3 linked regions of the Homo sapiens genome follow. The protein of the gene in region 2 purifies or fractionates together with the protein of the main gene of each other region. This does not show direct contact. Each region holds a gene or a part of one and is shown on either strand. Other genes may lie near its edges. The genes, in order: E2F5, TFDP2 and E2F3.

What was found.
Region 1: the proteins of TFDP2 (region 2) and E2F5 purify together in Homo sapiens (affinity purification with mass spectrometry; 3 studies listed by BioGRID and IntAct, with this or other methods). This does not show direct contact.
Region 3: the proteins of TFDP2 (region 2) and E2F3 purify together in Homo sapiens (affinity purification with mass spectrometry; 3 studies listed by BioGRID and IntAct, with this or other methods). This does not show direct contact.

Annotation. Positions count from the first base shown.
Region 1 is NC_000008.11:85,180,039-85,187,153, reverse strand, and holds part of E2F5 (transcription factor E2F5), read right to left. Parts: intron 1-7,115.
Region 2 is NC_000003.12:141,950,447-141,957,561, reverse strand, and holds part of TFDP2 (transcription factor Dp-2), read left to right. Parts: intron 1-4,545; coding exon 4,546-4,651; intron 4,652-4,865; coding exon 4,866-5,049; 3' UTR 5,050-7,115. UniProt on the Homo sapiens protein: Can stimulate E2F-dependent transcription.
Region 3 is NC_000006.12:20,481,788-20,488,902, forward strand, and holds part of E2F3 (transcription factor E2F3), read left to right. Parts: intron 1-974; coding exon 975-1,133; coding exon of another isoform or gene 1,134-1,162; intron 1,163-4,901; coding exon 4,902-5,016; intron 5,017-6,325; coding exon 6,326-6,461; intron 6,462-7,115.

The sequences.
Region 1 (7,115 bases), on a different chromosome or scaffold from region 2:
ATTAACAAGAGAAACTACAGAATATTCACAAATACATGGAAATTTAAAAACAAAAAACATGCTCTTAAACATCTAATGAGTCAATGAAAAAATACAAAGGGAAACTGAAAAATATCTTAACAAATGAAAATGGAAACAATATAACAAAATCTATGGAATACAGCAAAAGCAGTTCTAACAGGGATTTTTTTTTATGCTTGGATTGTTAGAGAAAACTAAGGAGGAATTTATATATATACACACCATATATATACCTTACATATATATATACCATATATATACACCTTATATATACACACCATATATATACACCTTACATATATATACCATATATATACACCTTATATATACATATCATATATATACACCTTATATATACCGTATATATACACCTTATATATACCATATATATACCTTATATATATCATATATACACCTTATATATACCATATATACCATATATATACCATATATACCTTACATATATACCATATATACACCATATATACCTTACATATATACCATATATATACCTTATATATACCATATATACTTTATATATATCATATATATACACACACACCATATATATACCTTATGTATATACCATATATATATATACCGTACATATATATACACACACACATACACACACCTTAAGTTCTGGGGTACATGTGCAGAACGTGCAGTTTTGTTACATAGGTATACATGTGCCATGGTGGTTTGCTGCAACCATCAACTCGTCACCCACATTAGGTATTTCTGTTAATGCTATCCCTCCCCTAGCCCCCCAACCCTGAACAGGCCCCACTGTGTGATGTTCCCCTCCCTGTGTCCATGTGTTCTTGTTCAACTCCCACTTACGAGTGAGAACATGTGGTGTTTGGTTTTCTGTTATTGTGATAGTTTGCTGAGAATGATGGTTTCCAGCTTCATCCATGTCCCTGCAAAGGACATGAACTCATCCTTTCTTACGGCTGCATAGTATTCCATGGTGTATATGTGCCAGATTTTCTTTATCCAGTCTACCATTGATGGATATTTGGGTTGGTTCCAAGTCTTTGCTATTGTGAATAGTGCCACAATAAACATACGTGTGCATGTGTCTTTATCATAGAATGATTTATACTCCTTTGGGTGTATAGCCAGTAATAGGATTGCTGGGTCAGATGGTATTTCTAGTTCTAGATCCTTGAGGAATCACCACACTGTCTTCCACAATGGTTGAACTAATTTAAACTCCCACCAACAGTATAAAAGCATTCCTAATTCTCCACATCCTCTCCAACATCTGTTGTTTCCTGACTTTTTAATGATCGCCATTGTAACTGGTGTGAGATGGTATCTCATTGTGGTTTTGATTCGCATTTTTCCAATGACCAGTGACGATGAGCATTTTTTCATATGTTTGTTGGCTGCATAAAAGTCTTCTTTTGAGAAGTGTCTGTTCATATCCTTTGCCCACTTTTTGATGGGGTTGTTTTTTATTGTAAATTCGTCTAAGTTCTTTGCAGATCCTGGATATGAACTCTTTGTCAGATGGGTAGATTGCAAAGATCTTCTCCCATTCTATAGGCTGGCTGTTCATTCTGATGATAGTTTCTTTTGCTGTGCAGAAGCTCTTTAGTTTAATTAGATTCTATTGGTCAATTTTGACTTTTGTTGCCATTGCTTTTCGTGTTTTAGACAAGAAGTCTTTGCCCATGCTTTTGTCCTGAATGGTATTGCCCAGGTTCTTTTCTAGGATTTTTATGGTTTCAGGTCTTACGTTTAAGTCTTTCATCCATCTTGAGTTGATTTTTGTATAAGGTGTAAGGAAGGGCTCCAGTTTCAGTTTTCTGCATATGGCTAGCCAGTTTTCCAACATCATTTATTAAATAGAGAATCTTTTCCCCATTTCTTCTTGGTGTCAGGTTTGTCAAAGATCAGATGGTTGTAGATGTGTGGTGTTTATTTCCGAGGCCTCTGTTCTGTTCCATTGGTCTATATATCTGTTTTGGTACCAATACCATGCTGTTTTGGTTACTGTAGCCTTGTAGTTTAGTTTGAAGTCAGGTAGCATGATGCCTCCAGCTTTGTTATTTTTGCTTAAGATTGTCTTGGCTATGCAGGCTCTTTTTTGGTTCCCTATGAAGTTTGAAGTAGTTTTTTCCAATTCTGTGAAGAAAGTCATTGGTAGCTTGATAGGGATAGCATTGAATCTATAAATTACTTTGGGCAGTATGGCCATGTTCATGATATTGATTCTTCCTATCCATGAGCATAGAATGTTTTTCCATTTGTTTGTGTCCTCTCTTATTTCCTTGAGCAGTGGTTTATAGTTCTCCTTGAAGAGGTCCTTCACATCCCTTGTAAGTTGGATTCCTAGGTATTTTATTCTCTTAGTAGCAATTGTGAATGGGAGTCCACTCATGATTTGGCTCTTTGTCTGTTACTGGTGTATAGGAATGCTTGTGATTTTTGCACATTGATTTTGTATCTTGAGACTTTGCTGAAGTTGCTTATCAGCTTAAGGAGATTTGGGGCTAAGACGATGGGGTTTTCTAAATATACAATCATGTCATCTGCAAACAGAGGCCATTTGACTTCCTCTTTTCCTGTTTGAATGCCCTTTATTTATTTCTCTTGCCTGACTGCCCTGGCCAGAACTTCCAACTCTGTGCTGAATAGGAGTGGTGAGAGAGGGCATTCTTGTCTTATACTGGTTTTCGAAGGGAATGCTTCCAGTTTTTGTCCATTCAGTATGATACTGGCTGTGGATTTGTCATAAATAGCCTTATTATTTTGAGATATGTTCCACTGATACCTAGTTTATTGAGAGTTTTTAGCACGAAGGGCTGTTGAATTTTGTTGAAGGCCTTTTTGCATCTATTGAGATAATCATGGGTTTTTGTCATTGATTCTGTTTATGTGATGGATTTATTGATTTGCGTATGTTGAACCAGCCTTGCATCCCAGGCATGAAGCCAACTTGATCATGGTGGATAAGCTTTTTGATGTGCTGCTGGATTTGGTCTGCAGTATTTTATTGAGGATTTTTGCATCGACGTTCATCAGTTATATGGGCCTGACATTTTCTTTTTTTTCATTGGCCCATTTGGTTTCTTCAGAGGCCTCGCTCCTTGGCTTACAGATGATCACCTTCCTGCTGTGTCCTCACATGGTCTTTCCTCTGGGTGGCAGCATCTGAGGCATCTCTTTGTATATCCAAATTTCCCCTTTCTCATAAGGACCCCAGTCAGATTAGATCAGGTCACAGCTTAATTTTAGCTTAATTATCTTTCAAAGGCCCTATCCCCAAATACAATCACATTCTGATGTATGGAGGTAAGGCCTTCAACATATGAATTTTGGGGGACACATTTCAGCCTATAACATCCATTAAGCAACAAATTCCATTCTGTTTTCCCTCAACCCCTGGTAACCACCCTTCTACTTTCTGCCCCTGTGAATTTGACTACTCCAGGTACCTCACGTAAGTGGAATCATACAGTATTTATCTTTTTGTGACTGGCTTATTTCACCTAGCATTATGTCCTCAAAGTTTATCATGTTGCAGCATATGTCAGCATTTTCTTCTTTCTAAGCCTGAAGAATATTCCATTGTATATATACCACATTTTGTTAAGCTACTCATCTATTGACGGACATTAGGATTGCATCCACATTTTGGCTATTATGAATGCCACTGTTATGAACACAGGGGTATACATACCTTCTTGAGGCCCTGCTTTCAATTCTTTGGGTATACACCCAGGAGTGGAAGGGTCCTGAGAATTTGTAAGCATGCACTAAAGTTCTCGCTGTCCTACCCACATATCTCTCCTTAGGCTAATTCTACCTTAAAATGTTTGCCTGGTATTACAAACTAGGGTCTTTTGTTGTCGTTGTTGCTGTTTTTCGAGACGGAGTCTTGCTCTGTCACCCAGGCTGGAGTGCAGTGGCGTGATCGTGGCTCACTGCAAGCTCCGCCTCCCGGGTTCACACCATTCTCCTGCCTCAGCCTCCTGAGTAGCTAGGACTACAGGCACCAGTCATCACACCCGGCTAATTTTTTTGTATTTTTAGTAGAAACGGGGTTTCACCGTGTTAGCCAGGATGGTCTCAATCTCCCGACCTCGTGATCTGCCCGCCTCGGCCTCCCAAAGTGCTGGGATTACAGGCGTGAACCACCGGGCCCGGCCAAACTAGTGTCTTCAATTATTTATTTATCCCAGGATGTATCTAAATCAGGCTCATAAACGGGTATGCATCAGGGACCTGTCAGATAAGACGCACCATACTTTATCACATTAATTCAGGTATAATTCAGGTAATTTATTAAGTTAAAGAATTATAATAAAAGAGATAAGCAATCTTCATCATGCTTAAAAAAGCTCATACTGACACCAAAATGGCAAATAAAATGTAGAACTTTAGTTATAACTTACATTTAATAGGAATTTTCAAAACAACATACAGATACATAGTCATGACTATCTTAACAGTTGTTCAAATTCTTAACTGTGAACAAGTGAAATCCTAGTTTAATTTATGCAATAATACAGAATATGTCACCAATAGCTTCATTTTCAGGAGCACAGTACCTCCTTCTTTTCCACCTTGGGCAGAGGAGTAAGAATAATCATGCATTTTTCCATGCCCTTATGCAAATGGAAACCTACCTACATACATTTATTTTTGAAGACTACTGAAAGATGGTATAACATAGAGAATAACAATAAATGGTCTAATTTCAAATCTTAGCTCTCACTTTCTACTGTACAACACCAGGCAAGTTATCTAACCTATCTTGGCCTACTTAACTAGCAGTTTCTTACGCTGTGAAATGGGGCTGTTCTGCCGAAATGTTCACTGTTGTTAAGAGGATAACATTAGCTAAAAACATGTAAAATGTTTTGCATATGGTAAGCTCTTGATGTATATTAGCTATTAACAGCATAAACTGGCAAACCACGTAGCTTGAAATAACCATGATATAATTTCTTATCTCACTGGAATAAAGAAATAATAACTATCCCACCTCCACTATTGTAAATGAGACTATATGGTGTAGGTGAAGCTGCAGAGATAATGAATAAACTTTCCTCACATCACTTTCAATGTCTTTCTATTGCTTCCTAATTGTTAAGTTATACTACAACAGCTTTATTAAAATTGATTTTCTATGTTGAGCCATGTTTTTTTTTTTTGAGACACAGTTTCGCTCTTGTCGCCCAGGATGGAGTGCAGTGGTGCGATCTCGGCTCACTGCAACCTCCGCCTCTTGAGTTCAAGCGATTCTCCTGCTTCAGCCTGCCAAGTAGCTGGGATTACAGGCGCCTCCACGACGCCTGGCTAATTTTTTTGTATTTTTAGTAGAGACGGGGTTTCGCCATGTTGGGCAGGCTGGTCTCGAACTCCTGACCTCAGGTGATCTGCCCGCCTCGGCCTCTCAAAGTGCTGGGATTACAGGCGTGAGCCACCACGCCTGACCGAGCCATGTTTTCAATTAGTTATATTATTAAGAAGAAATGGCCAGGCGCGGTGGCTCACGCCTGTAATCCCAGCACTTTGGGAGGCCGAGGTGGGAGGATCACGAGGTCAGAAGATCGAGACCATTCTAACACGGTGAAACCCCACCTCTACTAAAAATACAAAAAAAAAAAAAACAAAACTAGCCGGGCGTGGTGGCGGGCGCCTGTAGTCCCAGCTACTCAGGAGCCTGAGGCAGGAGAATGGCGTGAACCCAGGAGGCGGAGCTTGCAGCGAGTGGAGATCGCGACACTGCACTCCAGCTTGGGTGACAGAGTGAGACTCCCGTCTCAAAAAAAAAGAAGAAATGTGTCACTAAGATACAACCTTACGTTCTTATTCTCCAGCAGCATAAGATAGAAAAGAAATAGCATCTATGTGGTCTAGGATACTTTATGATATCCAAAATATTTGGATATTTTACTTGAAGTTTGATATACTTTTTTATTCTTTGGGATATTCAAAAACTGTTTCTTCAAGGCCGGAAGCGGTGGCTCACAGGGGAGACCAAGGTAGGCAGATAGCTTTGAGCTCAGGAGTTCGAGACCAGCCTGGGCAATATGGCAAAACCCTGTCTCTACTAAAAATATAAAAATAAGCCAGGCATAATGGTGTACGCCTGTAGTGCCAGCTACTTGGTAGGCTGAGGCAGGAGAATCACTTGAGCCCGGGAAGTGGAGGTTACAATGAGCTGAGATTGTACCACTGCACTCCAGCCTGGGCGACAGAATAAGACCCTGTCTCAAAAAACAAACAAGACCGGCCGGGCGCGGTGGCTCACGCTTGTAATCCCAGCACTTTGGGAGGCCGAGGCGGGCGGATCACGAGGTCAGAAGATCGAGACCATCCTGGCTAACATGGTGAAACCCCGTCTCTACTAAAAATACAAAAAAAATTAGCCGGGCGTGATGGCGGGTGCCTGTAGTCCCAGCTACTCGGGAGGCTGAGGCAGGAGAATGGCATGAACCCGGGAGGCGGAGCTTGCAGTGAGCCGAGATTGCGCCACTGCACTCCCGCCTGGGCCACAGAGCGAGACTCTGTCTCAAAAAAAAAAAAAAAAAAAAACAAGACCAACCAAAAAACCATATATATATATATATATATATATATATATATATATATATATATGTATAGTTTCTTTAACTGCGTTTAAAAGTCAAGTGTATAACTTAAAAGTTTCAAAAAAATTATGCTGAAATATGCCCCCACCAAAGTAAGAATACAAGAGAAAATGTGTCTTTATAATTTCAAATTAGAGGAAATTTATAATTGTCAGTGTGAGTCCATCTTTAATATGTATTATCAAACATGTCTTAATGGGCTGGGTATGGTGGCTCACGCCTGTAATCCCAGCACTCTGGGAGGCTGAGGCAAGCAGATCATTTGAGGTTGGGAGTTCGAGACCAGCCTGGCCAACATGGTGAAACCCCTTCTCTACTAAACATACAAAAATGAGTCGGGCATGGTGGCGGGCACCTGTAATCCCAGCTACTTGGGAGGCTGAGGCAGGAGAATCGCTTGAACCCGGGAGGTGGAGGTTGCAGTGAGCAGAGATCTGCCACTGCACTCCAGCCTGGGTGACAGAGCAAGACTCAGTCTCA
Region 2 (7,115 bases):
ACTGTTTCCACTTTTTGGCTATCTCGAATGATGCTGCTGTTAACATTCTTATAAAAGTTTATGTGTAAACATATGTTTTTATCTCTAAAAACATATACCTACGAGTGAAATTGCTGGGTCATATGGTAACTCTGTGTTTAACATTTTAAGGAAATACCAAACTGTTTTCCAAAGCTCCTGTACCATTTACAGTCCAACCAGTGGATAAGTGTTCCAATTTCTCCACATCCTTACTTACTTATTTAGAGACGGAGTCTCACTCTGTCGCCCAAGCTGGAGTGCGGTGACGTAATTTGGCTCACTGCAACCTCCACCTCCCAGGTTCAAGTGATTCTCCTGCCTCAGCCTCCTGAGTAGCTGGGATTACAGGCACCTTGCCGCTATGCCCGGTTAGTTTTGGTATTTTTAGTAGAGACAGGATTTCACCATGTTGGCCAGGCTGATCTGGAACTCTTGGCCTGAATTCACCTGCCTCAGCCTCCCAAAGTGTTGGGATTATACATGTGAGCCACCGTGCCTGCCCTCCATATCCTTTTCTACACTTGTCACTATACATCTTTTGAATTATAGCCATCCTCACAGAAGTGAAGTGATATCTCGCTGTGATTTTTGTGGGGGGGGTGGGGCAGGGTGGTGGTGGAGGGGAGAGAGTCTTGCTCTCCAGGCTGGAGTGCAGTGGCGCAATCTCTGCTCACTGCAGCCTCGAACTCATGGGCTCAAACGATCCACCCACCTCAGCCTCCTGAGTAGCTGGGACCACAGATGTGTGCCACCATGCCCGGTTAAATCTTTTTTTTTTTTTTGATATGTTTGGTAGAGATGGGGTTTTGCCATGTTGTCCAGGCTAGTCTCAAAGTTCTGAGCTCAAGCGATCCACCTGCCTTGGCTCCCACTGTGATTTTGATTTGCATTTCCATAATGACTTCTGATGTTGAGCATCTTTTCATGTGTTTATTGACTATTTGTATGTCTTCCTCAGAAATATGTCTATTCACATTGACTTTTTTTTTGAGATGGAGTCTCTCTCTGTTACCCAGGCTGGAGTGCAATGGTGCAGTCTCAGCTCACTGCAAGCTCCACCTCCCGGGTTCAGGCGATTCTCCTGTCTCAGCCTCCCAAGTAGCTGGAATTACAGGCGCCCACCACCACGCCCAGCTAATTTTTGTATTTTTAGTAGAGACAGGGTTTCACCACGTTGGCCAGGCTGGTCTCGAACTCCTGACCTCAGGTGATCCACCCGCTTCGGCCTCCCACAGTCCATCCTTTGCTCATTTTTAAGTAGAGTTACTTGTCTTTTTATAGAGTTGTAAAGTTATACTGAGTATACTTGAAAACAGAAGCACTATGTTTTACATGTCCTATAATTAAGATTTTTTTCACTAATTTAGAAATCTTCCTGATTTTCCTAATTCCTGAAAATATTACATATTTTGTAGATACAATTTGACTATATAGGTTGGGTGCGGTGGCTTACGCCTGTGATCCCAGCACTTTGGGAGGCTGAGGCAGGCATATCACTTGAGGTTAGGAGTTCAAGACCAGGCTGACCAACATGGCAAAACCCCATCTCTACTAAAAATACAAAAATTAGCCAGGCATGGTGACACATGCCTGTAATTCCAGTTATTTGAGAGGCTGGGGCAGGAAAATCACTTGAACCTGGGAGGCAGAGGTTGCAGTGAACGGAGATTGCACCACTGCACTCCAGCCTGGGCAACAGAGCGAGACTCTGTCTTTTAAAAAAAGAAATGAATATATAAGCAGTGTTTTTGCCTTTGCTTTCTTTTGTTTATTTTATTTGTAAGTATAACCATCTAGAATTTCACATCGCTTTTTAAAGGCATTTTAATACTAGGTCTAAGATACATTAAATCCAATGTAAGCAAAAAGGTAGCTTTAATTTTGTTTTATTCTATGATTTGGTCCTTTGCTCACAACAGAAGAGTTTGTTGGCTGAGATTTGGTTTCTGTTTTAGTTCTTCGGTTGGCACCATTCATCCCCTGCAAGGGCCCCCCGCCTCTCCTTGCCCCTCAGCCCACCTGTTCCGTCTCCCCACCCAGCTTTCCTCTCTCCACGCTCTCCAGCCTGGGTCCTGCTGTGTCATTGGAAGGCCAGCAGAATCTGAATAAAGGGCTTACTCAATAAATCACCAGAACTTTATTTTAGCTTACTCCCAGTGAAAAGGCTCAGGGCGATTAGGCAGGCTCTGTGGTTTTGATCTCTTCGTGACCTCATTTGCAGACTGGGATACAGACTTTCTGGTTAGTTCAAAGGAAGAAACATGTGCCTCTCGTGTGTAAAGGGGCAGAATGGCCTGGGTGGGAGTGTGAGAACCATTGTGTGGATCCTGTGATAATAGGAAAGAAATGTAGGCTTTTCCAATTCATTGTAAAAAGAGAATGTAATGTGTTATGCTCACAAACAAGTAAATAGCTGTGTTCTGACAGAAGGTTTCTATAGTTCTATATACTAATTAATATTCAGCACAAGATTCTGGCTTTAATTTTATTTTCTTGTACAGACTTGTCGTTATTTAATGTATTTAAAGTCTGCTATTCTTCTTAGACTTGAAGTCTCTTTTTTTTCCCAGCTGTCTCAAAGAAAAAGGTTCATAAGACGGTTCTAAAATTAGCATAGTCATTTAGTTTACTTTTTTCCTACGTGGGAATGGCCTCTTGTTTGGATACCAGAGTTTCCAATCTAAATCATATAGTTTCATTTTTTTGTATAGTAATTGCAAAAAGATTTTGATTCAATTAAATCATAGCTCATTTTGGCAGATTACATTTTCTGAGTATGTGTTTGGGCTTATAGAATTTCTTTTTAGGAATTACTTTTAATGTATCTACCACTTATTTTGTAAAGTGGCAGCTGACAGAGACTATACTCATTCATTCAGTAACTTTTTTGTTTTTTTGTTTTTTTTTGTTTTTTTTGAGACAGTCACTCAGGCTGGAGTGCAGTGGCACGATCTCAGCTCACTGCAACCTCCGCCTCCTGGGTTCAAGTGATTCTCCTGCCTCAGTCTCTCTAGTAGCTGGGATTACAGGCATGTATCACCATGCCTGGCTAATTTTTGTATTTTTAATAGAGATGGGGCTTTGCTATATTTGCCAGGCTGGTCTCGAACTCCTGAGCTCAATCTGCCCGCCTTGGCCTCCCAAAGTGCTGGGATTACAGGCATGAGCCACCGCGCCCCGCCACATTTAGATCTTACATGTTCCAGTTACTGCCTTCTTTGAGCTAACACTGTAGATGGGAAGATAAAAAGTATTAAACCAGTAAAATTACAATAAGAATTGATCAGTGTTGTCATAGGATAAATGTGGTATATGTATAGAAAAGAAGATGGCAAGGAGATATCCAAAATATTTTCTTTTCTTTTTTTCTTTTATTTTTTGAGATGGAGTTTCGCTCTTGTTGCCCAGGCTGGAGTGCAGTGGTGCAATCTCAGCTCACTGCAACCTCCGCCTCCCGGGTTCAAGTGATTCTCCTGCCTCAGCCTCCCGAGTAGCTAGGATTACAGGCATGCACCACAACGCCCAGCTAATTTTGTATTTTTAATAGAGATGGGGTTTCTCCATGTTGGACAGAACTCCCAACTTCAGGTGATCCGCCCTCCTTGGCCTCCCAAAATGCTGGGATTATAGGCGTGAGCCACCGTGCTCAGCCCAAACTATTTTCTGTAGACTAAAACAGTAACGTCTGTGTCTGCCTCATTAAAAACATGACTGCATGTGACCTTTTTAAAATAAGAGCTAGTTGTGGGGTGGGGGGAGGGGGGAGGGATAGCATTAGGAGATATACCTAATGCTAAATGACGAGTTAATCGGTGCAGCACACCAGCATGGCACATGTATACATATGTAACTAACCTGCACATTGTGCACATGTACCCTAAAACTTAAAGTATAATAATAATAAAAAAAATAAAATAAGAGCTAGTTTGAATTAGAAAGCAACAGACACCAGGAAAAATCTTGTCAGGAAAAAGAATAGATATTTGATGAGTAGCAGCATTGAGTTCACCAGCAGCAGGCACCTGAAAAGACATTGCGGCGGGGGTTTTGGCCAAAACATGTCTGTCTGCCCTCTAAGCAGGGTGGCCTTCTTACCTCATGTATTTCTGATTTGATTTTCTCTTTTCCCACTTCTGGCTTTGGCTCTCAACACCACAGTCCAGGTCTTTTGTGCTGAGGGCAGAAGGCATTGAGGGTGGTACACTGGGATGTATCCCATGGGCTGTGCTCTGGAGGGCTTATCTAAGAAAAAGAGTAAGAAAGTGCCTTTGAGTGTTTTCATTTGAATACCTTCTCTCCGTAAGCTGCCTTCCCGTATTTTTTTTTTCCTGCTCTTATGTTCTAGAAATTTTTTTTTCTTCCAAGAAGATGAAGAAACCTGGGTTCTTGTCACAGCAAGAGAATTGTCTAGCTGTCATGAAGAATAAGCTTAGCTCTTGCTTTTCTGTGCTTTCCTCAGACTGTAACAACAGCAGCCACAGAACTTGCAGGACCGACATTTTTTGTTCTCATTTTTTCCTTTAGATATCTCCACAGGACCTTCTTGGTTAAATCAGGGACTACTTCTGAACTCTACCCAATCAGTTTCAAATTTAGACCTGACCACTGGTGCCACCTTACCCCAGTCAAGGTACGTATTTTTTTCAGGGTTAGAAAGGCAAACCCCAGAGCCCTGACTGTCTGTGTAGGGGTGAGCCGGGGTCATGTTACTGCCAGCACAGGTCCTGCTGAGCAGGTTTGTGGCAGATCTCACCAATGGCACCTCCTTCCTGTTTTTATTCCTATGTTTTACAAAACTGTTTATACCACATTAATGAGCCTGTGTGTTTTTAATTGTTTGCTAGTGTAAACCAAGGGTTATGCTTGGATGCAGAAGTGGCCTTAGCAACTGGGCAGTTCCTGGCCCCAAACAGTCACCAGTCCAGCAGTGCGGCCTCTCACTGCTCCGAGTCCCGAGGCGAGACCCCCTGTTCGTTCAATGATGAAGATGAGGAAGATGATGAGGAGGATTCCTCCTCCCCAGAATAAAGACAAGAGAAAGCCTACGTTTCAATATGTGATGCTCATGTGTGTTTGTAGTGTGAGCTCTTGTTTTTGAAATGATTGCTTCAGTCTTTGCCTTTGTTTGCACTGTGTGTTCAGTGAAAACTAGAGAAACACAATAAGCAAATCACATGAAGGCTGAGATGATTGAGATGAAAGTTAACATAGTGTGAATGAAAGTCTGGCCAACAGAGCAGTAGATGATATAACAAAGAAAGCATGCTTTCTGAGGAGATAGTGGGGATAATCCCTGAAGAGTTGGCAGTGTGAGTGCAACTCATTTATCTTCTGTGAGGTGGGATTTTTGTGTTCCTCACACCCATGTAATTATTCTTAGAATTGAGATTGCTACACGGAGCAGTCCTTGACGATCGTGTTTCTGACGTTTCTCTTCCTTGCCTGGACTGCCTTTGACAAGGCAGAAATGAACATGAAAAGTCCCCAGGAGAGGGGAGCTGTGTAGTGAGGGATACTGAGGGCAGTCCTGTGGCTGAGGGGCACAGATTGAACTGCTGAACTAGTTGGAGGTCTAGATGAGGTGCTTTACGCATCAGCTGCCTTAGACAGCTTCTAGAAAGGAGCGAGCGCTACTTCTTAAGTACTTAAGTGACATTTAGATAATTTATAGTAAAACTGAAATTATTATTAGCCAATGCATTGGTGCATAGAATTTACTAGGGCTACTTCTGGAAGCCAAAATAGAATAGCATTTCCATGTGCATTAAATACTTTGCCAGCACTGCCTTTGCCAGCATCCTAAATCTGGAGTTTTACAAAGAAGGAAACTGTATCTTTAGGTTAATCAAAGCTATGCATTTCATATAGCTTTTTCATTTAAAACAAGACAAAGAAACAAATTCCTATGACCAAATTGCTTGCCTACAGTTCCCTGCAGTAATTGTATGATCTCACCCAGTGTGCAATTTGTGAAAATGAACCAAATGTCATTACTTTTGTCTTAAAGAAAAGTCTATTTCAAGAATATGAACAGCAGTGTTTCCTTGTACATGTCACCTTTTTTCACATTTTCATTAATCAGAATGACCTTATTGAGCCTACTCCTGGGGTCAATTGCATTTCAAACTAATCCAATATTTAGTGTTTCACAGAAACACTAGAAAACGTTGAACACTCCTACTGCCTGGATATATGGTAGTGCAGTTATGTTGTTTATGGCTCAAGATGTCATTAGAAATACTGCAGTGGTGTATTCACAGCTGCTCCTTCTCTGAATGAAAGAGTGTAGGGACACCTGCCACCATGGCCAGACCCTGACTGAATTTCACATTAAGGCTTTGGAAAGGAGCAAATAATAATGGGAGAATTAACTCCAAAACTTTGACCTGAATCATGTGGATTTGTCCCAAGATTATGCTAGATGCACCAAGCATGGCCCAAATTGGTTCTTTTTTAAATCCCATGGGGGAAGTGCAGGCTCCTTCCTGTGGTGCCTCTTTATAGCCTCACCACCATGCTAACACTGAGCATGGTGAGGAGGAGGAAGCTTTGGCTAGCTAAACATGTTTAATAAGGCCATAAAAACTGAGAAAGAAAAACATTCAACTTTAGCTGAAGCTCCTTTGATACAAAAGTTTCATTCTGTCAGAAATAAGCCATAGTACAGACTCAGAGATAGAGGCAGTTTCTAGAGAACTCGGTCTTATCGTGGGTTCTGGAGCACACCTCTCAGACCAGTCAGGAACACTGGGGAGGTGACAGCAGGTCCCCAGGGGCCTGCAGGGAATCTTTCAGCTGCACGGATTGGGATTTCCCTCCAAACCAAACTGTCCTTTAAGGGGCAGCCTCCTCTTTTACTAACTCCACCCTTTCTCATCTCTGGGACCCAGCAGGGACCTGGAGAGGCCAACAGCCACTGCTACCTTTGTAGTCTTCAAAATATTGAACTGCAGGTCCCAAGATGCATTTCAGGATTTAAGACAGGTGCACTAATGATAACCATTCCTTCACCAAGTAGCAACATTCTTGCCAGAGTTCTTGGGAAACCTGTTTTTTTCTCTACTCTCCATCTCTGCTGCTCTCATGCTTTAAAT
Region 3 (7,115 bases), on a different chromosome or scaffold from region 2:
TCTAATAAGAATCTGGAAATGATGGCTTATGGGTTATCTATGTGTATACGTACAACTGCATAGTTACAGAATATCTTTATCCATGGTTCTAATAGCAGATTAACTCACTTTCTGGGTAAATTAAGGCAAGACTTAAATGCCTCCATTTCGTCTGTAGAGCAGGGATGGTAGCATGATACTTATACAGCCACACGTATGATTACATATGTAATATATTTTGTGAATTTTAGAGCATCTAAATAGCCACTATAAGCACAGTATTGAATTATTAAAGCATTTTGGAAGGAATAATTCTGTTACAGGAGGGCTTTGAAAAGATACTAATTCAGATGGAAGATGAATACATACCTTTTTTTGCACATTTTGGAATTTTGTTGACAGTTTGGTAACCCGTTTTGGCCTCTGGTTTAGAGAAACATATTGTGCACTAGTCTCAGTTCTTGCATACATCACATACATCTGTTTCCTTTACTTTCTTTTCTTTTTAGTTGTTGATATAAGACCCTCAGTAATTACCTGAGTTTTTGATGCTTTTTTGGATGGGTTGTTTTTTTGTTTTTTTTTTTTTTTAATTTTGAACCATTCCATCTTCTCTGTCTTTCTCTATCTTTTTATCCTTTTTCGCCTTTCTTCCCCCACCACCTGGGAGCCATGAGGCAAGGGAGGAAGGTGGTTGCCTTCTTTTGCCCTCTGAATTTGAACCTTCTGAAGAAGTAGACCTCCCCTGGAGGAAAGAATCCTGAAAATAGCAGTGCGCTTTCACTAAATTTCTATGCTGTGAAAAGTGCAGAACTGTATTTATGAAAAAAAAAATATATATATATATATATATATGTGTAAATGTTCTAATTTTAACACTTGGCTAACAAGCAATGTGACCTCCTATGTCAAGAGGAGACATTTACCCAAAGGATCATTTCTCCTTCCCCTCCCTCCCATGAGTAGCCATGAAGAGTCTGTGTTTGGGTTTCTAGGGGCTGCAGTCTGTCTGAGGATGGGGGCATGCTGGCCCAGTGTCAAGGCCTGTCAAAAGAAGTGACCGAGCTCAGTCAGGAAGAGAAGAAATTAGATGAACTGATCCAAAGCTGCACCCTGGACCTCAAACTGTTAACCGAGGATTCAGAGAATCAAAGATATCCTTTGTGCCGCCAGTTCTCTGGGGGTTAGTGCTTCCTAGACTATTTCCAGAGTTGACAATCTGACTTATGCACAAGGTAGATTATTATTCTGATGTCATGCAAATGAGTACCTGTGTGCCTGTGTGTGTATGTGTGTGTGTGTGCACGTGTGTGTGTAAACCCAGTTAGCTTTGCCTAAAAAGTCAGTATTTATGGTAAGATAGTCACCAACTCGATCCTATTATTATCTATTTTGATACCAGGTGGGAACTGTTTTTTAAAGCATTTTTTCATGTGTGGTTGAGACATGGGTATACTCGTAGCGTAAGGCCACACTATTAAAAGATACATAAGGTGTCGGTATTAATATTAATGACAACACTAAGCAGATTCGTCTTTGGCTTCCCAGATTTTTGGTGGGTGTTAGCTGTCACTGTTGGGGTTCTCACATTCTATTTTCTTCTCACCAGATATCGTAGCAATTGAAATTGGTTGAATCTATCTGATTGGGCTATAGTTGAAGGGTTTGAAAGAGTAGAGAAAAATCATACTATAACTCTTAAAGTGCATTCTGCTGATTCCCAATGAAAAAACTGATTTCAAAAGCACCCCAAGACCTGAGAAACCCCTCTCAATTCCTCTGTTCCACTACAAACATTAGTCCTCGCAAATAAAAATACAAAAGGTCAGTTCTTGTTCTCAACTTCCTGACAATCTATTGACGATCTCAGGAAAACTTGCTCTTCATCATCTCACTACAGACAAAGTAAGAGAGAGATTGCCTCATTATGTCAAACAAGACTTGCCAATATTCTCAGTTATTAGAAGACAAAAAACAGTACTGTAAGTTATCCCATCTCTAGTTTTAGTTCCAAACTTCTGATGATTGCACATTTACCATTATTTGACAAAAACTAAAAAGTGTTCTGCCCAGATTCTTCTAGTGTCTCATCTTTAACAGGCTCCCCCTTGGAGAATATGGAGATATTTATTTTCTTCCAATGTTGGCAGTTTTTCAAACCTGCAATTGTTCATTTCCTGTTGACCAAAGAATTAACCTTGTCAGCCGATAATTAGTGAGATGGAAGAGAGGCGTAGTGATTTGGACCCCCAGTGGTTGGCAGAGTGGGTTTACAGGGGAAGAAACCAACAGTTGGGCTGTTTCATTCATTGTTTGGTTGGGAGCCCCATTGTGGAAGAGATGGGTGGTTACATGTGATTGGCAGCCTTCCGGGACATGTGGCTTATGGCATTGTCACCTATATTAGCTCTCTCTGGGGCCTTTGTTGCAGAAAATGAAAGCTTCCTTGCAGGGAACTTCGAACCCAAGGAGTAAATTCAGGAGGGAGCCACAAAGGAAGCACTTTTAAGTTTGTAAGATTAGAAAATACATTTGCACAATTTATTTCAGTTCACCATTCAGTTCCCAAATTGGTACAGCTTGTTCACAAATGTGTTGAAATTTTCCTTCCTGCAGCATGTTGAGTAATCGTAGATGAGTTTTTCTTTTACACTTGATCTTAGCCAAAAGGCCAAGAAGTGATGAGTTTTTATTTTAATAAGTTCTTGTCATACAGCTTTTTGACAGTGAGCTGTAGTGTAAGTACCTGGTTGTCAGTTTTTTCCAGTGTTCTCAGTAAAAAATCAGAACTGCCTGGCCCTCTATAAAGGCATCCGTTGACTTCTTTGATGGGTTATGTAGTGACCTAAAACCCAGAATCCTGCAAGAGCAGCCACTACAAGCTCAACACTGAATTAGCCATCATCTCAACTGTAAAGATTTGAAGGAGATAGTCTGTGATAGATCCCCTACATGTGTATGCAGATTTCGTGTGAATGTGCTTTCTTTCTGGAGTAGTAGTTCCATAGCTGCATTCAGTTTCTAATAAGAAGCTACTACAGCCAGGCACGGTGGCTCATGCCTGTAATCCCAGCTACTCGGGAGGCTGAGGCAGGAGAATCACTTGAACCTGGGAGACAGAGGTGGCAGTGAGCTGAAATCGTGCCACTGCACTCCAGCCTTAGTGACAGAGTGGGAGTCCGTCTCAAAAAAAAAAAAAAAAAGAAGCTACTATCGTAAGGGACATGATTTATTCTAGGGTCTCTAAGCCCCCCCTTTTTTTTATATTAAACATATTAGATCACGGACTCTATTAGCCATTAAATACGTTATACTACCTGCTGAAATGCCTTCATTGGTTTGTTACTTGCTGTTTTATCCTAGGAATTTTTTGTGGGTACATATAAAAAATAATAACGGGCTAAAGACATTGTACATTAATTGAATACTTTTGTCATATCGTAAGTACCATATTCTTTCATGATAGCCTTTTAGGCTTGGCTGTCAGGACATTTAAAAGAATGGTTCAGTGCTTAGAAAAAATGACCAAGGCCGGGCGCCGTGGCTCACACCTGTAATCCCAGCACTTTGGGAGGCCGGAGGCAGGCAGATCACTTGAGTCCAGGAGTTCAAGACCAGCCTGGGCAACAGGGTAAAACCCCATCTCTACTAAAAATAAAAAAAATTAGCCGGGTGTGGTGGTGCACGCCTGTAGTCCCATCTGTTTGGGAGGCTGAGGCACGAGAATCATTTAACCCCAGAGACGGAGGTTGCAGTGAGCTGAGATTGGGCCACTGAACTCCAGCCTGGGTGACAGAGCAAGATTCTGTCTCAAAAAGAAAAAGGAAATAACTACCAAGAGTACTGAGATATTATACTTTTCTCTTTTCCTAAATCAGTGTTTCTCAAATTCATTCAAGTCGCAGAGCACCTGGAAACTGCTTTCTTCCTCATGAACACTGAAATATTGATAGAGTTAATATAGTATCACGCAAAGCATAATTTTTCTAACAGAAATAATGACACTCTTTTCTGTAGGCAGTACATAATCACAACCAGCCCAGGTGCACTTAAGAAAACAAGCTGTCTGCCTGAGCAGTATTCTGAGTTCCTCCACTAATGTATTTGTTACTTATTTATTTACTTGGTGGCTGCTGACACTTGCTTGTAGATAGAAGTAACTGGAGTTTCAAAAAAATTATGGCTAATAGAGATTACATTTTTTTTTCCTGCAAATTGGAATCTGCCATCATTCAGTTTGAGTGACAGAACACTTTATTGGAGTTCATGGAATGCCTGTGCTGCAAAGGACCCTGGCTTCAAGATAAAATTTCTGACCACTTAGTTTTTTATTTTCTTATGATCATTTATTTTAACTGTTCTGTTTCTATGTTTAATATTTTAAATAGCCATAGTCTTTTTAGAAATGGGCGGGATAAAGCTATTCATTTCTTTAGTTGTTTAGAGTGTCAACCAGAAATGAAGATTCATGGGAGACCCTAAACATTTGCACATCCAGAAGGGGAGACATACACATACTTTTTTGAGAAGGAGTCTCGCTCTGTCGCCCAGGCTGGAGTGCAGTGGCGCGATCTCGTCTCACTGCAAGCTCCACCTCCCGGGTTCATGCCATTCTCCGGCCTCAGCCTCCCGAGTAGCTGGGACTACAGGCGCCCGCCACCACGCCTGGCTAACTTTTTGTATTTTTAGTAGAGACGGGGTTTCACCGTGTTAGCCAGGTTGGTCTCCATCTCCTGACCTCATGATCCACCCGCCTCGGCCTCCCAAAGTGCTGGGATTACAGGTGTGAGCCACCGCGCCCGGCCACATATGCATACTTCTAAGTCATAAAATACTTTAAAATATTCCATGCATCTATTTTGTCATTTTCATCATACTTATATCTGAGGTAATTAGATGGAAGATTCCTTGACACTCTTTACGTTAGCTTATGTTACATATCAAGATATTCGAAAAATTAGTGGCCTTAAAGACCAAACTGTTATAGTTGTGAAAGCCCCTCCAGAAACAAGACTTGAAGTGCCTGACTCAATAGAGGTAAGGAGACAGCGTCTTTGTTCATCTGCAAAGATCTTTGTGGAATGCCTGAAATTGAATGACTCATTGACTCATAGTTAAAGTCTGTCCCCCTCCTATGAACTTGATGGTTCTTTCCCATTTATTTTACTTAACCATACATTTGAAAACATTTCAATGGTTTGATGTTCATTGAGTATTCAAACAACCTAACTTTGACCTAGCAGGATGTTCAGTTCAAAGTGGTATATGATGCGCTGTCCCTCTCATACTTTCTCTTTTTCATAATTTGTCATCAACGGTTTTGATCAATTTGAATCACTTTGGAAAGTTTATATTGATTATCCTGTATATGGTCCCCACCACGAACAGATATATAAATGTTTTAAAGTCTCTCCCTAACTTATAACATTTTGAGAGATCACATGGGGCTTTGGGTTAGCTGATAGACTAGAATATTGCAAGAAAGTAGGGGGCATATTTTTGTAATTTTCAGATATACTTGGATAATAGAGGCCTAGACTACAACTATAACATAAAGAGTTGTAGTAAAAAGAAAATGCATAGGAGATAAAAAGAGAATGAAAGTTACACGCTTCCATCTAGGGTAGACTTCTTACCTTAAAAGATAATAATAGCTCTTTGACCTAGATGAAAAAGATTTTTAAATGTTGGTATGCTGCATTCTCTTAATAGATGCAGTTCCTAGCACTTAAGAATACTATTCATCAGTATACAGTTCAACATGAAAAAGTCCTACCATAAAGGAACAATAACATGGAGATACTGAATTTGGAACACTTAAAGGACCTTGTAATAATTTGCAGAAAAAGAATATATCCAAAGAACACAATTCACCTCACCCATTGTGCTATTTTCAGAATGACTCCCCTCTCCCCCAAGCCCCACTAAAATAGTTTTCTTTCTCTAGGGCAGGACTCAGCAAACTTTTTCATTGAAGTGCCAGGTAGATAGTAAATATTTTTGGCTTTGCGAGCCGTACAGCCTGTGTCTAGACTATTCAACTGTGCACCTCTGACATTGTGATACGAAAACAGCCAGAGGCAATAATAAACAATGGGAATGGATGTGACTCTCTTCCAATAAAACTTTATTTACAAAGCCACTTGGTGAACTGGATTTGGCCCTTAGGCTGTGGTTTGCTGACCCCTGCTCTAGAGGATGACAGTCTTTCATAGAGTTGGACTAGTAGGGAAAAAGCAAGTGAAAAACGAACATTGTTCTTACTTTCCATTTTTAGACAAGAATTACTATGGCTTTTATTTCTAAAAGAACTTCTGATTCGAACTTCTCCCACTTCTGTTCATAGAGCCTACAAATACATTTGGCAAGTACCCAAGGGCCCATTGAGGTTTACTTATGTCCAGAAGAGACTGAAACACACAGTCCAATGAAAACAAACAACCAAGACCACAATGGGAATATCCCTAAACCCGCTTCCAAAGGTAAAAACTCCACTTTTGTCTTTTAGAAACTATGTTAAAAATGAGGGTGACTAGAACCATCTGTATTGGAACCACAAGCCTAGGCAAGAAACACAAACTTCTATTGGTATTAGGTAACATGTTTTAAAAGACATTCTGACTGGTTTGCAGAAGAAAATAATGATTTGGGAAAAACGGCTCCTTCACCCACTTATGGAGTCGCTTCAGGCTTTTGCTATTGGCAGAGAATGTTTCCTTACAGCATTTTTGAAAACCAGCTAAAGTGAGGAGCAAAGCTGTGAACTGTCTTGTTGGATCATCAGAGACACTTGGCCACACACCTTTGAATCACACTGCAGAGCTCATCAGAGAGGGAAATGAAAAAGGTTTGAGGAGAAAAGCCTTTGTTGGAGAATTTTTGTCTTATTTTCCCCCCCAATGAGATGGGGAGAGGATATGGGAGGAGAACGCTAGGAAAGTAAGTCTTGCCGGGTGCGGTGGCTCACACCTGTAATCCCAGCACTTTGGGAGGCCGAGGCAGGCAGATCACGAGGTCAGGAGATCGAGACTGTCCTGGCCAACACAGTGAAACCCTGTCTCTACTAAAAATACAAAAATTAGCTGTGCGTGGTGGCACGTGCCTGTAATCCCTGCTACTCGGGAGGCTGAGGCAGG